Homo sapiens: one gene and its partners. The protein of the gene in region 2 purifies or fractionates together with the protein of the main gene of each other region. This does not show direct contact. Each region holds a gene or a part of one and is shown on either strand. Other genes may lie near its edges.

Region 1 (5,449 bases), about 18 Mb from region 2:
AAAAAAAGATTTTCAAAAGGAGTTCTACTTTTAGGAAGATGATTTACCAGTGAGCCCTGAGGATTTTATAGTCTGCTCATTTCTTCTCTAAACTGGTACTTCATTCCTTGGTTATCATTTTTCTATACTAGTAATCAAAAATCATGTTTCTGAAGCCCAGGAGGAGTCCCAGAAGTGTCCACCCAGCTCTGGCCTCCTCCCACCGTCTCTCCTCCCCATGCTTCCCCAAATGCACTCGTCCCTCAACTGTCTTTTCACCCGCTCACATCCACACTTTCTCAGCAGCTGCACACAACTCCCGGGGTGAAGCAACCCTGTCACACCACAAGCACAACAGATGTGCCACTCCCCAGCACAACCATGTTCACTGCTTCCTTCCTCAGCCTGCCCTGTGAGAGCAAGAGAAGAGCAGGGGTCAGTGAAGTGAAAGGGACAGACGGCAGCCCTGATACTTTAGACACAAATCTCGCCTGTGAAAGTGCTTCTTAAAACAAATCACATCAAGGTAAGAAAACCATCACCAGCAAGTCACATGAGCAGTTATGTTCCAAATGTGATGGGTTTATTTTATTTTACTATGATGCAAAACCAAAGATTCCACTATAGCACAGAGACCAGTATATTACAAGGTCATGAAAAAATGGTGTGGGACATGCAGGACGTGATGTACAAACTGGTGGGTCAGATCGTCTCCTCTAACATGACGCTACACTGTCGCTGAGGAACACATTTAATAACACTTCAGAACTGAACTGAAACGTGGCACAAACATGACAACTTCCAGGCATGCCTTCAAGCATCTCCCTCAGGAGGGATTCGCAACCCCTAGACTTCAGTGTGGGGAGGATTACAATTCTTTGGAAGAATAAAAAGTTCACACTTTTGAAATTTCACAGAAGAATTTTAAGGCCAAAACATAGTGGGTTCATTTCTCTTCACTTCCAGGGACAAATCTGATGCTTTCCTCAAACCACATTAAGCTTCCAGTTCAAATCCCAAGCCAACCTTGTGACCTCCTGCACTGAAGTTCTTCCCATCGATTAAAGCTGATAAAGTCAATTTGACTCCTAGGAAGAAGAAAACACCACAATCACTTGAAACAAGTATTACAATTAGATCTGAACTTTCTAGAAACAACAGATGGAATCAATGGTGTGGATTGTAGCTGGGTATACGAGCTATAAGCAAACAGCTATTACTCAATCGGTTATTTATAACTATCTGATGTGTAATGAGGAAAGCATGATCATGGCAAACTTTCTCTGAAGTTCAGGGTTAAGGGCAATGAGTGATCAACCAAACTCAAAGGCCAAAGTGACCACATTATAGTCAGAAATACATACTTTTTTAATGCAAAAGTATTTGATCTGTATTGTTTTCTGTCTGAACAACCAAATGTTACAAAATGGTCCAAATCAACTTACAGTGACTACAGGTTGTTCTGCAGGTTATTTTCATTGTTTTCTCTATCACCTTCCACCTCAACCCCTCTGTTACTAATTCCTTTACTTACCTGGTCGAAGGGTCTGAGTATAACCCAGTCCAATCAGGCTGGCATTATTTACTTTAGCCTAAGATTAAGAGATAGAATAATAACAGAAAACAGTGAATTACAGATCAGTCCAATATAACCATCACTTTGTGCATTAGGTTTCCAATGCTAAAAGCACCCTAGGGCCAATCTAGAATTACTGATTTTTTTTTTTTTTTTTTTTGAGATGAAGTTTTGTTCTTGTCACCCAGGCTGCAGTGCGATGGCACGATCTCGGCTCACTGCAACCTCCGCTTCCCGGGTCCAAGCCATTCTCCTGCCTCAGCCTCCCAAGTAGCTGGGATTACAGGCATGCGCCCCCATGCCCGGCTAATTTTGTATTTTTAGTAGAGACGGGGTTTCACCATGTTGGCCAGGCTGGTCTCAAACTCCTGACCTCAGGTGATCCCCTGCCTCAGCCTCCCAAAGTGCTGGGATTACAGGCGTGACCCACCGTGCCCAGCCGGAATTACTGATTAAGAAGTCAGTAGGACTTGTAGGGGTAGGACGTACCCTGAGAATGCATGCTTCAAGGCCTCAAGCAAAATTTTTAAACACTACACAACCAAACACCCTGAATTCTCTGAGATACCAGCTGACAATCTCTCACAGTGGTTACGGCATGAACTTGGGTGACAGAAAAACAGACCTAGGTTCAATTGTGGCACTGCCAGTTACTATGTGACCTTAGGCAAGTTAGCTGACCTTTCTAAGGCTCAGTTTTCTCATCTGTAAAACAGGGATGAGGATAACACTAATCGCCACATGGAGTGGTTGTGAGCGTTAAATGACATAATATACATAAAGCCCTTAGCACAGTACATGAAATTTAACAGCTCAGTGTTATTTTTAGTAAGAGTTACTATAGCAACAGAAATAGTCATCTAATCCCATGAATTTCCAAATAAGAAAATTCTGAGGCCAAAGTGATAAAATGACAAGGTCAGACAACAGATATACAGGAAGAGCTAGGACTAGAAGAACCCCTATTTCCTGACGTCAAGCATAATTTTTTTTTTTTTTTTTTTTGAGATAGGCTCTCGCTCTGTCACCCAGGCTGGAGTGCAATGGTGTGATCTTGGCTCACTGCAACCTCTCCATCTGCAGGGTTCAAGCAATTCTCCTGCCTCAGCCTCCCTAGTAGCTGGGACTACAGGCGTCACCTACCACGCCCACCTAATTTTTGTATTTTTAGTAAAGACAGGGTTTCACCTTGTTGGCTAGGCTGGTCTTGAACTCCTGACCTCAGGTGATTCATGCACCTTGGCCTCCCAAAGTGCTGGGAATACAGGCGTGAGCCTGGCCACATTATATTCCTTTCACTACACAATGAGCTGGCTTATTAAAATTAATAAAGAACAAGCAAACTACACTCATATCACAACATTCTCTGAAAACTTAGACACAAACATAAGAGCAGATCCAATCTGGCAGCACATTCTTACAGAGAGAGAAGTTCTACAATCCAGCATGTACTTAGCAGCAATGCCAAAACGGGTGTTGTTACTCCCAGCTGTCCAAGCAAGGTTTATGGATGTTTCAATCTTCTCATTCACCTTCTGGTAGATAGAACCTCCAAATTCAGTGCCATCGTTCCTGTTTTCATAGATAAGAAAACGTCATAAATATCTAGTTTGTACCATTGTTATTATGGTATGAAAACAAATTCTAAGACTATCTAAACAAGGATCCCATTTTGTAACTATAGATTTCAGCAAATTTCTAGCATAAATGACTACTAAACAAAACACAGAACTAAATCCAGCTATGCCAGTAATGACTGCTTAATTAAAACGTTAACACTTGATCCATTTACTTGGCTCCTCCACATGATGTGAGTTTCTTAAGACAATTCAATTAAGCACAAAGGCAGACACCTCGGGTAAGTATAATCTATAGGTCTCTGAGAAGTTCATAGAACTTAGAAACTTCAAAGTAGAGTTCAATAAAGATTCTGCAAAAAAATAAAAAGGTAGAGGTATAGGAATAAAACCAATTCTGGATTTCCTTTAAAACACAATCCTACAGTTAGAAAGCACCCTCCTACGATACCTAGGGTGCACTGCTCCAGAAAACCACCTTAGTTATTGCTTCCAAGCATGCCAGAGGTGAGTCCTTGGGTTTTCACATGGTTTTCCTGATAATACTGTTTCATCAATTTCAGTAACTGTCTATACCACTGCTTGCCTTTGTTTTAGCCATCATAAGTAAATTAGAGCATCTAGCAGAGAGGAATCTGCAACAGTTTAAAAACACATAGTTTGCCCTTTGCTTTTTCTTCCTGGTATAGTAGCAGTGTCCAGTAGGCTCAACATAAAATACTACGTAAAAGTTCTGATTCATCCCACCAACATGGTGCAGCCTACATAACTGAATCCCAGGACTCTTTCAGAGCACCTGTTACTTCTGAATGCATTAGCGGTACCTGGGTTCCAACCGAGAATACCAGTACCTGAAACCTCCACAGAATTACCGGGATGTCCCAGGATGCTCAGATCAATTTGGTGGTGGTTGTTGGTGACCAAAACAGACCTGCTTCCAGATACTGTCAAGATGAGAGGGCAGCAGAGGAAGCAGTAACATCTCCAAAGGGTCATCTTACCATGAGGTAAGCCATGCTCTGGGCTCCCTCTATCCCAGTGGTTCTTCTACAGAGGCTGGAGCTTCCTCAAGTTTGGGGTGCAGGCTGAGGGGCCAGTGACCACCAGCAGCACAGCCTGCACACCACGTGCACCAGCCTCCTGGCAAGGTTTTGCTATGAGGATAGCACCGCAAGGATGGATATTCACCAAGGCATGCTAAATCTGAGTACCATCACTTCTCAGCATGCTAATGGCTACAATATTTTGGGCAACTGCACTGATACTAAGGAATAAATTATAAACACTCACACATGTGTGTGCAGCTGGAAGTCCGCAGCCTTGTAACCCAGGGCGAAATTATTCTGTGACAGTTTGGATTTGGCTGTGTCAAAACTCATCTGATAGCCAGCAAGCCACCCTTCGAAGGCCAACACAGCCCAGCCATAGATGGTTGGTCCAGAAAAATCTATATCAACATTACTGCCAACACTAAAACAATCCCGTTTATAGGAGGCCTTCAATTTCCCACTCTTCTTTCTGCAATAAACAAACAAACAAAAGCAAATGATGAAAACAACATGAGTTCTTACTACTGTCTAGGAATTTTTAGAGTAAGATCCTCTCTCTCATCTCCCAATGTAAATATTATTTTGGTACATGCCACATATATAGTAAAAACATTTCAAATGACCTAGTTCTACAAATATAATTTTGTTAGGATTAGACATGTATAGACTACTATCATCTATTACTCATTATAAGTTCAAATGATAGGATACTTCATGATTTATTTCATAAAAGCATGAACAAAAGTATAAGAATGAATAAGAGGCTGGGTGTGGTGGCTCACACCTGTAATCCCAGCACTTTGGGAGGCCAAGGTGGGCGGATGACGAGGCCAGGAGATTGAGACCATCCTGGCCAACATGGTGAAACCCCGTTTCTACTAAAAATACAAAAATTAGCTGGGCGTGGTGGCACACGCCTGTAGTCCCAGCTACTTGGGAGGCTGAGGCAGGAGAATCACTTGAACCTGGGAGGCAGAGGTTGCAGTGAGCCAAGATCATGCCACTGTACTCCAGCCTGGCGACAGAGCGAGACTCGTCTCAAAAGAAAAAAAAAGAATGAATAAGATATTTCAGTGCCAAATTAATAATCTGAAGGTGTATGTATACAGACGTACAAGAAGCCAAATCTCTTTAAATGTTTCCAAATGCCAAATGCCACAAAGAATTAATCCCCAATATACATTATTAACCTATCATGGAGAGAAGCATGCTTTTTTGAAGGACAATACTGAAAAAATGAAATTAGTTCTTAATAACCCTATTCCAAT
Region 2 (8,781 bases):
TTGCCCAGGCTCAAATTAACTTTTTCATACTGGCTGGGTGTAGCAATTTGTGTTTTTGGATAAACTGGTCTATTAGTCATCTAAGTTGTCACATTTATGTGGGTAAAGCTATTCACAGCATTCCCTAATTACCTCTTTTATGTCTGGAGAATCTGTAGTGATAGCTTCTGTTTTGTTACTGATAATTGGTAACTTGCACCTTTTCTGTCAGTTTTGCTAGAGGTCTGCCAATTTTACTGAAGTTTTTAAAAAATCCAGCTCTTTGTTTCACTGATTTTTGTTTTCAACTTAATTAATCTCTGCTCTTATCTTTAATATTCCCTCCTTTCTATTTATTTTGGGTTTTTCTTTTTTATGGTTTATTTTGCTTTGGGTTCTTGAAGTAGGAGTTAAAATTATTTTGAGACTTCTTTTCTTTTGTTTTTTTAAATTATACTTTAAGTTCTGGGATACATGTGCAGATTTGTTACATAGGTATATACGTGCCATGGTGGTTTGCTGCACCCATCAATCCATCATCCACATTAGGTATTTCTCCTAATGCTATCCTTCCCCTAGGCCCCCACCCCCCAACAGGCCCTGGTGTGTGATGTTACCCGCCCTGTGTCCATGTGTTCTCATTATTCAACTCCCACTTATGAGTGAGAACATGCGGTGTTTGGTTTTCTATTTCTGTGTTAGTTTGCTGAGAATGATGGTTTCCAGCTTCACCCAAGTCCCCTGCAAAGGACATGAACTCATCCCTTTTTATGGCTGCATAGTATTCCATGGTGTATATGTGCCACATTTTCTTTATCCAGTCTATCACTGATGGGCATTTGGGTTGGTTCCAAGTCTTTGCTATTGTGAACAGTGCTGCAATAAACATACCTGTGCATGTATCTTTATAGAATGATTTATAATACTTTTGGTATATACTCAGTAATGGGATTGCAGGGTCAAATGGTAATTCTGGTTCTAGATCCTTGAGGAATTGCCACACTGTCTTCCACAATGGTTGAACTGAATTACCCTCCCGCCAACAATGTAAAAGTGTTCCTATTTCTCTACATCCTCTCCACCATCTGTTGTTTCCTCACTTTTATTTTTTTTGAGACAGAGTCTCACTCTGTCGCCGAGGCTGGAGTGCAATGGTGTGATCTTGGCTCACTGCAAGCTCCGCCTCCTGGGTTCATGCCATTCTCCTGCCTCAGCCTCCCAAGTAGCTGGGACTACAGGCGCCTGCCACCACGCCTGGCTAATTTTTTATATTTTTAATACAGATGGGGTTTCACCCTGTTAGCCAGGATGGTCTCATCTCCTGACCTTGTGATCCGCCCACCTCAGCCTCCCAAAGTGCTGGGATTACAGGCATGAGCCACCGCGCCCGGCCGTTTCCTCACTTTTTAATGATTGCCATTCTAACTGGCATGAGATGGTATCTCATTGTGGTTTTGATTTGCATTTCTCTAATGACCAGTAATAATGAGTTTTCATATGTTTGTTGGCCGCATAAATGTCTTCTTTTGAAAAGTGTCTGTTCATATCCTTCGCCCACTTTTTGATGGGGTTGTTTTTTTCTTGTAAATTTGTTTAAGTTCTTTGTAGATTCTGGATATTAGCCCTTTTGTCAGATGGATAGATTGCAAAATTTTTCTCCCATTCTGTAGGTTGCCTGTTCACTCTGATGATAGTTTCTTTTGGTGTGCAGAAGTTCTTCAGTTTAATTAGATCCCATTTGTCAATTTTGGCTTTTGTTACCATTGCTTTTGGTGTTTTAGTCATGAAGTCTTTGCCCATGCCTATGTCCTGAATGGTATTGTCTAGGTTTTCTTCCAGGGTTTTTATGGTTTTAGGTCTTATGTTTAAATCTCTAATCCATCTTGAGTTAATTTTTGTATAACGTATAAGGAAGAGACTTCTTCTTTTCTATTGTGTGCATTTAATGATATACATTTCCCTCTCGTAACACTGTTTTAGCTATTTTCCACAAATTGGTATGTTGTATTTTCATTCAGTTCAATGTGTTTTTTGTAATTCAAGACTTGCTCACTGACACACAGAAGCGTACTGTTTAGTTTCCAAGTATTTGTAGATTTTCCTATTTTCTGTTAAACTGATTTCTAGTTTAATTCCATTTTGTTTGGAGAATACATTCCGTATGATTTCAATACTTTAAAATCTATTGAGGTTTATTTTATGGCCCAGGACACGGTCTATCTTGGTATATATTCTGTGAGCACCTAAGGGATGCTGAAGTCTCCAACCGTAATTGTGAATTTCTCTATTTCTCCTCGCAGTCTATCAGTTTTTGCTTCACATATCTGGTACACGCATGTTTAGCACTGTCACATCTTTCTGGAGGGCTGATTCTTTTATCATTATATAATGTCCCACTCTGATAATTTTTTTCTGCCCTTAAGTTTATGTGATATTAATATAGCTACTCCTGTTTTCCTTTGATTAATATTTGTATAACTTTTCCTATCATTTTATTTTCAACCTAACTGTACTGTTGTATTTGGAGTGAGTTTCTTATAAATACCATATAGCTAAGTCATTGTTTTTAAAATTCTCTCTGCTAATCCCTTTTGATTTGTGTATTTTGACCACCAACATTTAGTTATTGATATATGAGGGCTTACATCTGACATTTTACTTTGTTTTCTATTTTCCTTCTCCTGCCTTCCTGTGGGCTAATCAAATCCCTTTATTCCCCATGGCTTATAATATTGTGGAATACACTGATAATCACATCAGACAGTGGTTACTTGTTTATACTTCAAACATCAAACATAATTTGCAAGACTTGAAGAAAAAAGTCTATCATATTTATCCATATTTTTGTTTCTTATGTTTTTTTCTTCCTTTATGGTGTTCTAAGATTCTTTCTTCAATCATTTCACTTCTATTAGAAAACTTCCTTTAGCCATTCTTTTATGCAAATCTGCTACTAATAAATTCTTGGTTTTTCCTTCTCTAAGAATGTCTTGATTGCACCTTCATTGCTAATTCTTTTTTTTCTTTGCTGGGTAAAGAATTCTGGGCTGATAGTTCTTTTCTTTCTGCTCTTGCAAAACACTGTGCTACGTATGTTTATTGTGGCAGTATTCACAATAGCAAAGACTTGGAACCAACCCAAATGTCCATCAATGGTAGACTGGATTAAGAAAATGTGGCACATATACACCATGGAATACTATGCAGCCATAAAAAAGTTGAGTTCATGTCCTTTGCAGAGACATGGATGAAGCTGGAAACCATAATTCTCAGCAAACTATCACAAGGACAGAAAACCAAACACCGCATGTTCTCACTCATAGGTGGGAACTGAACAATGAGAACACTTGGACACAGGGCAGGGAACATCACACACCGGGGCCTGTTGGGGGTTGAAGGGCTGGGGGAGGGATAGCATTAGGAGAAATACCCAATGTAAATGATTACTTGGTGGGTGCAGCAAACCAACATGGCACATATATACCTAGGTAACAAACCTGCTCGTTGTGCACATGTAACCTAGAACTTAAAGTATAATAAAAACAAACAAACAAACAAAAATCACTGTGCTATTTTCTCTGTCCTCCATGGTTTCTGATGAGAAATCTGCTATCATTAGAACTGTTTTTCCCCTATACGTAGGGTGCTATTTTTTGCTGCTTTCAAGATTTTTTTTTCTGTCTTTCACGTTCAGAAATTTGACCATACAGAGGTTCGTCATCATGTGGATTTGTCTGGGTTTAACCTCTTTGGGGCTGTCTTCAATCTGTAGGTTTATATACTTTTTGCCACATTTAAGAAGTTTTCAGCCATTATTTCTTTGAGTATTTTTCAGAGCCATTCCTTTTTCCTCTCCTTCTAGGACTTATGATGCATCATATAACGTCAGCTTTTGTTACAGTCCTATAAGTCCCTGAGGTAGTGTTCATTTGTTTCCTCAATTTTCTCTCTGCAGTTTAGACTAAGTAGTTACTATTGTTCTATCATCCAGTTCACTATTTCTTTCCTTTATCTCCATTCTGCTGTTGAGTCCATTCACTAAGTTTTTTTTTCTAGTGTACAAAGAGCTTTGAAAGAGTTTTAAAATTTCAATTATTGTATTTTTTTTTATTTTAAAATTCCTATTTGGTTCTTTTTTTTATCTTGCATTTCTTTTGCTCAGATTGTTTGTTTGCTAAGACTCTTCTGTTTCAAGCATGTTCCTTGTTTGTTGAGGCATTTTAATGATTGCTGCATTAAAATCTTTGTAAGATAATTCAAACACCACTGTCATTTCACTGTTGGCACCTATTATCTTTTTTTCATTCAATTTAAGATCTTCCTGGTTCTAGGTATGATGAATGATTTTCTATTGAAACATGGGTATTTTAGATACTATGTTATGAGACTCTGGGTCTTATTTAAACCACTGTTTAGTTGGCTTCCTCTCACTCCACTCCAACAAGGGAAATGGTGGTGGTAGGGTGCTACTTCATTACTGCCTGGGGATTGTGGAAGCAGAGCCACAATTTTTTCTGTGATGTTTGGCTACAGTAGAATGGTTACTTTCTAAGAGTGTTCTGGCTTGCGAACACTGTTCTGACCTGCCTATTTCCTGGTTCTCTGGCTAGAAGACTTTCTTTTTCTGTGCCTGTTGACCTTTCTAGGTTGCCTGTTTCTCTAGCACCCAGTCTCGGGTATGTGGCAAAAAGAAAACCAAGGGAAATCATCACTGTGTCATTCCTCTGGCACCAAGGTCTACTAAGGGAAGTGTGTAGTAGGTGCAGTAGTAGGCTATGCCATCTAGGCTTATGTAAGTACACTCTATGATGGTCACGTGACGATGAAATCACCTGGTGACATATTTCTCAGAATGTATCTCCTTTGTCAAGCAACACATGACTGTATAATATTTTACCTAAGAAAGAATTCTTCGGTGAAAATACCAATGCTGTAGAATTACTGTAGTCAATTTTTAGGTTCAAGGGTTAATCAGAAGAGCTCCAAGTATCATTCTTAATAAATATTTACTGACTGCTTACTACATTGAAGGCACATGCTAGCTGTTGCCCAGGACCCTGACCTCTGTTATCCTTACGGCAGTGATTCTTAACTCATTTGTTTTTTAGAACTACTTTCTGTAGTTGCTCTTATAAGCTGTTCTTATCTAGAAATCGGGAACTAAGTATTACTTTGGATAAACTACTACTTTTCTTAGCTTCATTACCTCTTTTTATAAAATAACAGTATAGTAATACATTTACCTTAGAAAGGATCAACTACGTAATCATCTATTTATAATATGTATATACATACTACCTCCAAACACAAACACATAGAGCATAAAAGAATACACTGTGTTCAGAAAAGTTCCAATAGTTCAGGTTCATCAATGGAAATAACTGAAATAATACAAATTTCATCAATAGATGAAACAGAATTCTCATGCTTTGTAAAATGTTACACAGCAATAATAGAATACTTTAAGCAGAAGTGGTGATGTGGTAATATATTGACAGTTAAAAAAATAAATAAAATTAAAAAAATAAGCAGAAGTGGATATAAATAGCTACAAACGTTCTGCTGTCTTGAAACATTTCCAAATTTCATTAGTGTGGTTCCTTGTTTCCCTCCCATGCAACACAAAAAAGATTTCCCTACCATGCAACACGAAGAAGTCCAATACCTTATATCTTTGAGTACAGTGGGTTCCCAGAGAAGCCATTTTGCTCAACATAATTTGAAAGAATAGGACTACACTATTCTCCTCCATTGGCCAGACTGACTTTCTATGAATGTGATTAAAATATAACTCTCAGAAACTATAGGAAATTGTTTAGAAAAAGGGAGGGAGTGAAAATACGTACAAAAATGTAAGAAAACATTCAGGCTTTAGAAGGCTCAATATGATTTAAGAGTCTGACAGAAGGTGAATGTTACAAGGGATTTCAAAGGGAAGAAACTTTCCTACTTTATGATGTTCAAAGACCATCCGACTAAAAACTTAAATAATAAGTAAAATGAAGATATATAAAACATTTCTATTAAGTATAAAGATGAAGATTTTAAAGGGCCTCTTATTTACCTCTTCTACATTGGAAGCAGTCTTAGCAGACGTTTCCATGAAGATGAGTCCATGTTCTCGTGCAAAAGCTTCACCTTCTTCTTTTTTTACTTCTCTTCTAGATTCTAAATCACTAAACATGGGAAAGAAAGGGTCACATTACTAATCAACATGGTACAAACAGAAGCATTTGTGGAAAGTGTACCATGGAATTCAAAGTTGTGATGACCATTCTTTTAATTAATTTTTAACATACTAACTGTATTATTCAGGGTATTATGAGGGTTAGTATTTAGAACACACTGTCTAGTTTCAAAGAACTAACAATCCAACAGAAGAAAGATTCTGTGTTAGAGCTTTAGAACGTTAGAACTAGCCGTAACTTAAGGGAGCCTCTAGTCTAATACCTTATATCTTTGAGTACAGTGCATTCCCAGAGAAGAAAGCCATTTTGCTTAACATAATTTGAAAGAGCAGGACTATACTATTCTCCTCCATTGGCCAGACTGACTGAGTTTCTATGAATGTGATTAAAATACAACTCTCAGAAACTACAGGAAATTGTTTAGAAAATCCAAAGTACTAAAGATACATTACATCATTGATCCCAGTTTGTTTAATTCCCAGTTTCCTCTTAAAGCAAAATTGATATAGACAGAGAGAGAGAGGGAGGGAGGGAGGGAGAAGGAGTAGAGAGAGACAGAAAAGGAGAAACGGAGTGAGAGAGAAAGTGTAAGCTAGAAATTTCCAATGAAAGCAGGGTATTCATTTTTATCATACTAGAATTTTATTAGTGGGGGGGAGGGGAGGTAGCAGTTGCTTTTAAAGCGTGTTTTATTTTTAAAGTTAAAAAACTTTATTATTATATTTATTACTTTTTATATATTATTTATTATTACATGTTTATACATGAAAAAAGATGTATAATATAATGTCCACATACTTCCAGCTAGCCTTGACATATTATTTGCCAGATTTCAGGTTTCTTTCCCTTTAAGAAATAAAATCAGCAACAGCAGAATCACCACCTGTGTGTCTCTGATCCCACTCTCCTCCCTCTTACCCTAAAGGTAACCACTACCTAAATTTGGTGTTTTCATTCTCATGCATGTTTTTGCATTTATCCTCATGTTTATAACCATAAATAGTATTTCTTTTTCATGTCTTTAAAAATTCAGATGTAGCTACTGTTTTACAACTTGTTAACTTTGGTCAACACTATGTTTTTCAAATTTATCCATATAATACATGCAGATCTAGTTTGTTTTTAAACTGGTGAATTACAGTCTACTGAATGAATGCAATACAACTTAAATTCTCTATAAGGCAAAGTTATTTATAATTTTTCATTATTACAAACAATGTTACAATAAGCATTATATATATATGTATTATATATATATAAAATACATATATTAAAATATATGTATTTTACATATATATATAAAATATATATATATATTTGTGTATACACGTGCCAAGGCTTTTCCAGGGCAGTTTTTTTTTTTTAATTTTTTCAGAGACAAAGTCTCACTATGTTGCTCACGCTGGTCTTGAACTCCAGGACTCAAGTGATCCTCCCACTTTGGCCTTCCCAATTGCTAGGACTACAGGACTGAGACACTGCGTTAAGCCTGGGTAGGATTTTTCAAACTGTGTCATGACTCAATGAATTGTAAAAATCACTCAGTAGGAAATAATCAGAATTTTTTTTTAAAAAAAGAAACAATAGGCCGGGTGCGGTGGCTCACACCTGTAATTACGGCACTTTGGGAGGCAAGGCGGGTGGATCACCTCAGGTTAGGAGTTCAAGACCAGCCTGGCCAACATGGTGAAACCCCGTCTCTACAAAAATACAAAAATTAGCTGGGTATGATGGTGGGTGCCTGTAATCCCAGCTACTCAGGAGACTGAGGCGGGAGAATTGCTTGAACCTGGGAGGCGGAGGTTGCAGTGAGCAGAGATCGCGCCACTGCACTCCAGCCTGGGCGACAGAGTGAGACTCCATCTTGGGAAGGGAAAAAAAAAAGAAACAATATAAAATATCAGAGTCTATCACCTATATACATAAGTTCCATCTACTGTTTCATGGAACTTACGTATAAAGGTATAATTTACGAATATTTTGTTATATGTGTAGGTGTATACACAATTTATTTACTAGGTCATGATGTAAAATACATTTCTTACTATAGGTCAAATCAAAAAACTCAAAAGCCATAGTACTTGACGATATACTTAGTGCAAAGTTTTAAAAATACCTCAGTTTTCCAGGCATTACATCATATTGTTGTCTTAGTTCACTCCCTCTGAATCCCACTTAAGTTGCTTAGGTTACTTAAGTATCTTTCTTTTAATTTATGGCCCCTTTTTGTTTAGGGTTTGCATTACAACCCTTACACTATTAAAAAACTTTCATTTTTTAAATCTCTGCTTCCTATTTCTTATATAACCAATTTATTAATAAAATGCCATAGTAAGAAAAATTTGTGTCATCTGTTGCTCTGACTAGGTCACTGCCCTTCACTGGCTCCCTACTGCTTAATGCGTCTAATTCAAAAATTGCTTATTCCCTGTTTTGATGTCTATCCACAGTTCAATTCATCTAAAAATAATCATCTCATTTATTTCTCTCTGTTCTTTCTTGTTCGTTATACTCCTGATTTTAAAGGTCACCCACCTACGATCATCAGAAACATCTCGTTTACATACTATGCTTTGTTTATTTCTTCTCACATTTGAACTATCAGCTCCTAGTG
Region 3 (7,891 bases), on a different chromosome or scaffold from region 2:
GATAAAGGAATTTTGTTTTAAACCTAAATTTCAGAAGAGTTCTGCATATTAATACTGAGTTGAGCAGCAAAGGTTCTAATTTTTTACTAAGCAAAGTTTAACTGAGATGTTTTAAGTCAATATTTCTCAGTTGGGGTGATTTTTGCATACCACAGCCATTTGGAACTGTCTGAAGACATTTATTTTAATTTATTGATTTACATGGGTTTATTTGTCTTCACAAGTGGGGGTTGTTAGTAGTATCTAGAGGTTAGGATGCTAAACATCTTATGATGTACAGGACAGTAAAGAATTATCCCACCCAAACTCCCAATAGTGCCAGAGTTGAGAAATTCTGCTTTACACCAGTGACCATTAATCAAAACAACTTTGAGAAGAAACTTGGATACTTTCCTAAGACTTTTCAGCTACAAAAAAACTTATGTGCTTACTTCTTCTTGGTAAGTGACATTTCAGAAATCAAGGTTTCCTAAATTCTATAAGAATCCACAAAGCATTCTTTTGATATAACTGCTTCTTACCAAAGCAGGCAATGTTCCCATCTAGTCCTATGTATTTTAGATCATATTTGGCAGCTTCATTTTCAATGGGCTCATTCTCTGATTTGTCGTCCATAGCAAATATGTCTTTTTGTCGGAATTCTGCGTTGTCATCAAAGTTTATCTTGGCATCAAAACAGACAACTAAATAAAGAAGAAAACAATCATACTTGAATATCTCTTGAGGATCTATAAATTAAGTTCTTCAGGCTGGTAGGCACAAGCGAAGGGAAAGTTAAGTACTGTCATTTTTTTTCACATGTTACAGGCAGGAGAGGCTGCTTTGGCTTTCTTGACCTTTAAATTTTAGGGTTTGGTCCCTGTTGTCAAGGGACTTACGTTCTAGTAAAGAACATAGTAATTTCTACCTGTTGTTCTCATTTCAATAGAATAACCCCAAAAGTTGCCATCAACCATTAAAAGTTACAGACTGGCACAGCTTCATAGATACAGCTTTGATTCATTATTTTTATTATATATTTTTAGTATTTAACCACTAATTATCACCTTTCTCTTCTATGTAAAGAGAGACTAGACAATATTATTAATTATTTTGTCCCCTATTGTCCTTTTCTTGATATGGTAAAGTGAAATTTTTATTGAATCAGTATCCTGTCTAGTATTTCCAAAAGATTTAGTGGAAAGAATGCCAGACTAGAATCGCTCGATTTTTATTTGATCCTTAACTAACTCTGTAACATTTATTAAAAATAAAAATTGTATACACTTGAGTCTTGAACAACATGGGTTTGAACTGTGAGGGTCCACTTATAGCTGGATTTTTATTCTCAAGATGTAAAGCCCCAGAGGGTCGACTTTTCACATACATGGGTTCTGCAAGGCCAACTGCAGGAATTGTGCAATATGAACGAAGTTTGGTATATCTGAGATTCCTGGAACCGATTCCCTGCATATATTGAGGGACAACTGTGTATTTAAAGCATACAACATCATGTTTTGATATACATATAACACAGTGAAATAATTAAACACAGTGAAATGATTACTACACTGAAGCAAATTAACACATCCATCTTCTCATATAGTTTTTGGTTTTTCTTTTTGGTGTGGGAGAGCACTTAAAATATATACTTTTAGCAATTTCCAGCATACATTACTAACTCTGTAACCTTGATAAAATAACCTAGTTCTTCTCTGGGCCTTGGTTTTTTAATTGGAAAAAATGGCAATAACAATCCTTAAAACAAGGGCCATGCCCTTGATTCGTGCAGGACCATCTTATGGTGCTTCAGATTCAAGTTATAAGACACGAAAAGACCAAGACTGGTCAGTCACAAAGCCAGGATGCCAGGCATTATTAGCACAATTGTCTCTAGTTTCTGGAGCTGGTGGAAATCTCCTGGACCCAGCAAAACTCATTCCATAATAGGAGACAGACTACAGGGCACTTTCCTTGATTTACAGATCTCCTATACATACAATCAGGGAGAGACTGCAGTGGAGAGGGTGGCATTATTGGTATCTGGGTATCTGACCCCTTTTATTATCTCTCTTAGTGTAGAAATTAGTGTTCTGTGATGCCATGTCATCATAATGTTTGTTTGTTTGTTTATTTATTTATTTATTTATTTATTTCGGAGACAGAGTCTCACTCTGCTGCCCAGGCTGGAGTGCAGTGGCGCAATCTCGGCTCACTATAACCTCCACCTCCCAGGTTCAAGCGATTCTCCTGCCTCAGTCTCCCAAGCAGCTGGGACTACAGGCATGTGCCACCATGCCCAGGTAATTTTTTGTATTTTTAGTACAGATGGGGTTTCACCGTGTTAGCCAGGATGGTCTCGATCTCCTGACCTTGTGATCTGCCCACCTCAGCCTCCCAAAGTGCTGGGATTACAGGTGTGAGCCACTGCACCTGGCCAATGTTCTTTTACTTAACTTGGGATATTGATAGCCAGGAATCTTTGAACAATAATTTACAGATACTACCTATTCTCCTCCAGCATTGCTGACAGGCACCTGACTCTTGAAAGGGAAACAGCCACAGAACATTTCTCACTCACTGAAAAGCAGTGGCTATAATCTCCTAATTATACTTGCTTCTTATGAAAATAAAACATGGCTGTATATGGCATCTTGGCGTTAGAGACCCCAGGTAGAGGGTTTTCTCCAAGGGTTTCCCTACCACAATATTCAAGCACTTTGATACAAATCTGTGTAGACCAGCATATTAACATCTAAGAATACTTGTTATAAGTATATATATAGACCGCACATGACTTAAAGTAGCACTGAGCGACAAGAGAGAATCTTATATGGAAGTTAATGTCTGCTTAAATCCTTAGTCTTGCCCCAAAATGCCCAACCACTTTGTCCACACATTGTGAATGGTTGGAGTGAATGAGTAATTACTTTCCAAAATATTGAAAGCTTATTGACAGAATCCTACAATTACCAAACGAATTGGCCAATGTTCTCTGCTTGCTACAGGGGAATTTTCTCAGCAGTTAATGACTGGTATAATAATCAATAAAAAAGCAACTTCGTACATGGCTTTCCACTAGGTTTATAAATGCATTCTAATTAATTTATTAGTAATTTTAGCTCCTCCATTACTCATTGGCAAGACTACTTATAACTGACACCTTCAAAATGAATGGGCTAAGGTTATCAAATTGACTTCCTAAGGGAAGAGTTTCAAATAAAGGAATTCTTGGTTGAGATCAATAAACAAGTAAATCAAAATAGTTTCAAGCTGACCTTTGCTCCTTACAAAGACTACAGTTACAAGCTGCTTCAGAGAGAGAATAATTAATGGGTATGTATTCAAAGTTCAAAAGGCAATCCCAACTAAATGCCTGCAAAGCTAGATTTTCAGAGGATGTTTTTCTGTGGTATGACGTTCTCTCCAGGGAACAATCTTGACAGAACTTTGCAGTTAACCCAGAGCTTCAAGATGGTGACTATGGGATAAAAGGGGTGTATATCTACAACGGTCCTGTGCCGACTGTTAATTTGTAGAGAAAACTAAACAACCTAATTGGATCATTGCATGTATGTCTAAGTGTTTTGGGAAGTTAAAAACACTACCTAAATATGAAGTAATTTATTTAGAGGACTTAGGACTTAAGAAAGGGGATTCAAATTGAACTGCCACCTTCAAGACCCCAGTCTTTACTTAGTGGGTAAGGGAAGAAAAACTTTAAGGATGTAAAGGGATTCTTTCAGACACATATTTGTTACGCCTGTTTTATATTTTAAAAGTAGTCTGTGATACTGTGATTTATAATAAATATATTATTTTGGTCTTCATCCCTAATTCCTAGCATAGAGCTCTAAAACCCTTGTGATTTCCTAAGCAATAGGGGTGCTAGGAGAATCTTGTGTTCTAACATTTGGCCTTTGACCCTGATTCCTGATGCAGAGCTCCTAATCCCTTGGGATTTTCTGGGAGATAGGAGAGTCTTTTGTTCTATTAAGGTAAGTCTTGGTGGAGGCTTCTGTATGGGGCTGGTCGCCAGAAAGACCAAACTATGATTAGAAGCTTGGAAATTTCAGCCCCACCTCCATGCTCCAGAAAGAATAACAGATCATCCCTATGTAATAAAGCCTCCATAAAAATTTCTCAACTCCAGGGGACTGGAGAGCTTACAGGTTGCCAAACACAGGGAGGTGCTACAGGGTGGCTCACCTGTGGAGTACAGGGAAGCTTGTCACCCCTTCATGCATACCCTGCCCCATATACCTCTTCATCTGGCTATTCCTTTGTATCATTTAAAATATCCTTTATAAAAAAATAAGATAAAAAATAAAATAACCTTTATAATAAATCAGCAGTAGTAAGTAAAGTGCTTCCCTGGGTTCTGAGAGCCATTCTAGTAAATGATGGGGCACAAGGAGGGAGTCCTAAGAACCCCCAATTTACAGCTGGTTCATCAGAAGTACCAGAGGCTTGGTCTTACAAATGACATCCAAAGTGGAGTCAGTCTGATAAGACTGACCCCTTAACCTATGGGATCTGACTCTAATTCCAGGTAGATGGTAAAAGAATTGAATTGAATCATAGGATACCTAGCTAGTGTCAGAGATTAGTCAGTGTTGGAAAAACTCACACATCTGGTCCAAGAAGTGTTCTTCTGTGTTGAGAGTTTGGTAGGAGAAAAATGTTTGTTTTTCCCTATTATACATAGTACCAAACAAACAAAGTGCTTTCCTATCTTACTATCTACAATGTTGTGCCATCTAAATGATTTTCCTTGAACCTGACCACTTAATATAGACTGGCATCAAAAATATCAGGGTATAAATGACAACTCCTGGCACTTCCTAGCCAGCTATCCTTAAGCACATTAACCTCTCTTAAACCCGAGCCTTGTCTATACAATGGGGATCAGAGTATGTTCTACTCTAGGTGTTGGTGGCAGGAGAGATTGTATGCAAAGCGCTTAGCTTCCTAGACAGTGGGTACTAGCAGGTTGTTAGACGACCACACCACCCTCTAATATGCACATGCTTTTTTATACTTAAGAGCTTCCCATTATTGTAGCCCAGGCTACAGAACTCTCCTCTCTTCCTAACAATAAAAATTATCTGTTCCTTTATAATCTGAGATTTCTGTTTAGAGCAAATCTAAGCAAATGTCTCCCATAGTTTACATATGTACAGGTTACCCATGGTTTTCAATAAAAAGCCATCTTCTGAATGAATAAGAATTTTCCCAAAGGAAGAATATTAATAGTTGGCATTTTAGGCATCATAAATAGTAGAAAACAAGATTTTTGGCTAAAAGATAAGGGTAAAATAGGCTGTTGGTGACTCTCAAATCACATCACACCTGTGCATAAGGCCAAGGCTAAAGATTGGTACAGAATAGCTCCAAATGAAGATCTAAGCAAAGGGTAGCAACTAAGACCCTCAAGCCAGCCCTATTTTTATGAATAACAGATTGGAACATAGCCTCGTTCATATTGCCTATGGCTGCCTTCCCAAGACAAAAGCAGAGGTGAGTAGTTGCAATACAGACTGTATGGCCCGCAAACCCCCAAATATTTACTAACTGGTCCTTGACAGAAAAAGTTTGCCAATCCCTGCTAAGTCACAGTTCTCACACTTGTATCCACTTGTGTGAACCAAGTGATAGATACACAGGTGTCATATTTTATAGTGAAGGAGAAACTTAGAAAAAGTGCATTCCATTAACATGAAAACCAAAAAAAAAGTAAAATAACAAAGAAAATAAATAAAAACCTGTGGCTACGCAAAAGGAGTAGATTAATCCTGGAATACTAACTGACTCTTACATGCTTATTTCCTCCTGTAAGACGCTTCTAAATGCACTTCTTGAATTGACGTGTTAAAAATGGATTGATGTCTATGTCAACAGCAGGGCGATAAAATAAACTTGCCTGCTTAAACCCTTAGCTTTCTCATTTAATAAAACAACAAACAATACAAAATGCATTTTCAGAGGTGCTGAGCTTGGTCCGGACCTTAAGATTGTCAACGTCACATTAATGAAACTCAATTCTAAAGAAAATTCATCTTGAACAAAGGCCATTTTTTATACAAAGTGGGTGAAAGAAACATACCTATTAATATTTATAAAACAATTTTCACCATCAAAAGCACATTGTTACATGCTTGATAGATTATACAAATGTATTTTCCTTCTGAACGAATATCAAAGAAAGCTGTGGTACTTATATGCATAGGGTGTTTTGTTGTTTTGTTTAGTGGCGTGAGATTCTGTGAGCTGCTAATTCAACAATCTCGATAGAAAACATGACTGGCAGTTAGAGGCCTCTGACCCTAGAATTTTAACAGAAGAATGTGTCACAGAATTAAACAAAAGAAGAATACATTTCAGAGGGGAAACTTACACATAAAAGGAACATAAAACAGCAGGAAATAAGACTATCATAATTAGTTTGAAAAATAATCTGTCTTCAAGCAACGTACTGCGTTTGATTTGTGATAAATAACCATAATGTACTATTGAAACACGCCTTGCCAAAATGGCCTTAAAATGCTGATACTTTCAAATTAGTCCCACTTCCCATTAAATATTGATGTTCTGAGAGTTGTATACTTTTTAGAACTTTTTTTTAGTGGCTGTGAAAAGAGAAAATAGGTATGGGGTGGGTAGGGGGGTTGGGGGAGGTAGAGAACCGAAAATGTTCTTGAAAATAGAGTCTTGTGTATAAAGACAGAAACAGAGAAACACCCACCAACAACATGGGCACTTGCTAACAAGAAGCAACGGGGTGGTTATTTAGGGAAATCAATCCGAAGAAAGAAAGGAATTTGATGTGCCAGTTAACTGTGGATCACCCAGCTTTAATTCTCACGGAATCTTAGCCAGATAGTCACTGCTTCAAATTGGATCTCATTCCTTTGGCCCAGTGAATGGATTTCAGCTTCCAACTGATGAAGATGCCCCAAAGCAAGAATTCTTAATCTCTAGACTATGGACAGATTGGGTGAGGTCGTTCTCTGTGAACAGGGACCATCCTGTGCGTTGTAGTTTAGCATTATCCACGCCAGTAGCATAGCCTCCAAGTTGTGATGACTAAAAATGTTCCCTGGGGGACAAAATGCCCACCCTTCCCATGGAGTACAACTTGCTTTAAAGACATCAGAAAAAGGAGTCTGTGTACAGATAGAGCTGGCTGAAGGTGAGAAGAAATATGACATGAAATTTCACAGTGGCTAGCAAAATGAATGAATGAATACATGAATGCGCAGGTAGATAAATAAATAAATAATGATAAAACATTGCTTCTTGCTTGGCTGCAGAATTAATGAATGAATTGGCACTGCATTTGGACAAACAAGGAAAATAACGATTAATTTCTATTGACTAAGTAACAGTTTATTTTTGTTTCAATAAGGTTGCATCTTTCTGGTAGGCATGTTTTGACTCAGTGTCCCTTCTTCCATTAAGAAACTGTATGTCTCCTATACCATATGATTCTTGCTCAGTGGCTGGCATGGGCATAGACATGTGACCCAAGCAGGGTCAATGAGAATCATTTGAAGGGATTTATGGGGCTGCTGAGGGAGAGTTATGGAGCACTGGGAGCCATCTTTGCTGCCAGCTTCTGAGAGCCTGGCTGAGAAAGAAGCCAATTTGGAGGCAAGCAGGGCTGGAGAACCAGCAAATCCCTGATTCTCTTCAGGCCTTAAGCCAGTCCACACCTTAGACTTCCCTGTTACAGGAATATAACTTTTTAACAAAAACAAAGCTAATATAACTTTCTGTCATTAGCAACCATTATAATCCTAGCTAAGAGTCACTAAACTACATTGCAGTTAGTAGTGTCAAATTATATTTTTTGAATCAGATTATTAATCACATAGGAAAAAAGAGCTCTTGGACTGCAGTTCTTTCTCCG

Evidence for each region.
Region 1: the proteins of RAB2A (region 2) and VDAC3 purify together in Homo sapiens (affinity purification with mass spectrometry; 2 studies listed by BioGRID and IntAct, with this or other methods). This does not show direct contact.
Region 3: the proteins of RAB2A (region 2) and SUCLG2 purify together in Homo sapiens (affinity purification with mass spectrometry; 2 studies listed by BioGRID, with this or other methods). This does not show direct contact.

What each region holds. Positions count from the first base shown.
Region 1 is NC_000008.11:42,400,989-42,406,437, reverse strand, and holds the end of VDAC3 (non-selective voltage-gated ion channel VDAC3), read right to left. Parts: intron 4,651-5,449; coding exon 4,423-4,650; intron 3,486-4,422; exon of another isoform or gene 3,348-3,485; intron 3,128-3,347; coding exon 2,977-3,127; intron 1,572-2,976; coding exon 1,514-1,571; coding exon of another isoform or gene 1,510-1,513; intron 1,068-1,509; coding exon 976-1,067; 3' UTR 501-975; downstream 1-500. UniProt on the Homo sapiens protein: Non-selective voltage-gated ion channel that mediates the transport of anions and cations through the mitochondrion outer membrane and plasma membrane.
Region 2 is NC_000008.11:60,589,232-60,598,012, reverse strand, and holds part of RAB2A (ras-related protein Rab-2A), read right to left. Parts: intron 6,156-8,781; coding exon 6,044-6,155; intron 1-6,043.
Region 3 is NC_000003.12:67,497,613-67,505,503, forward strand, and holds part of SUCLG2 (succinate--CoA ligase [GDP-forming] subunit beta, mitochondrial isoform 2 precursor), read right to left. Parts: intron 684-7,891; coding exon 522-683; intron 1-521. UniProt on the Homo sapiens protein: GTP-specific succinyl-CoA synthetase functions in the citric acid cycle (TCA), coupling the hydrolysis of succinyl-CoA to the synthesis of GTP and thus represents the only step of substrate-level phosphorylation in the TCA.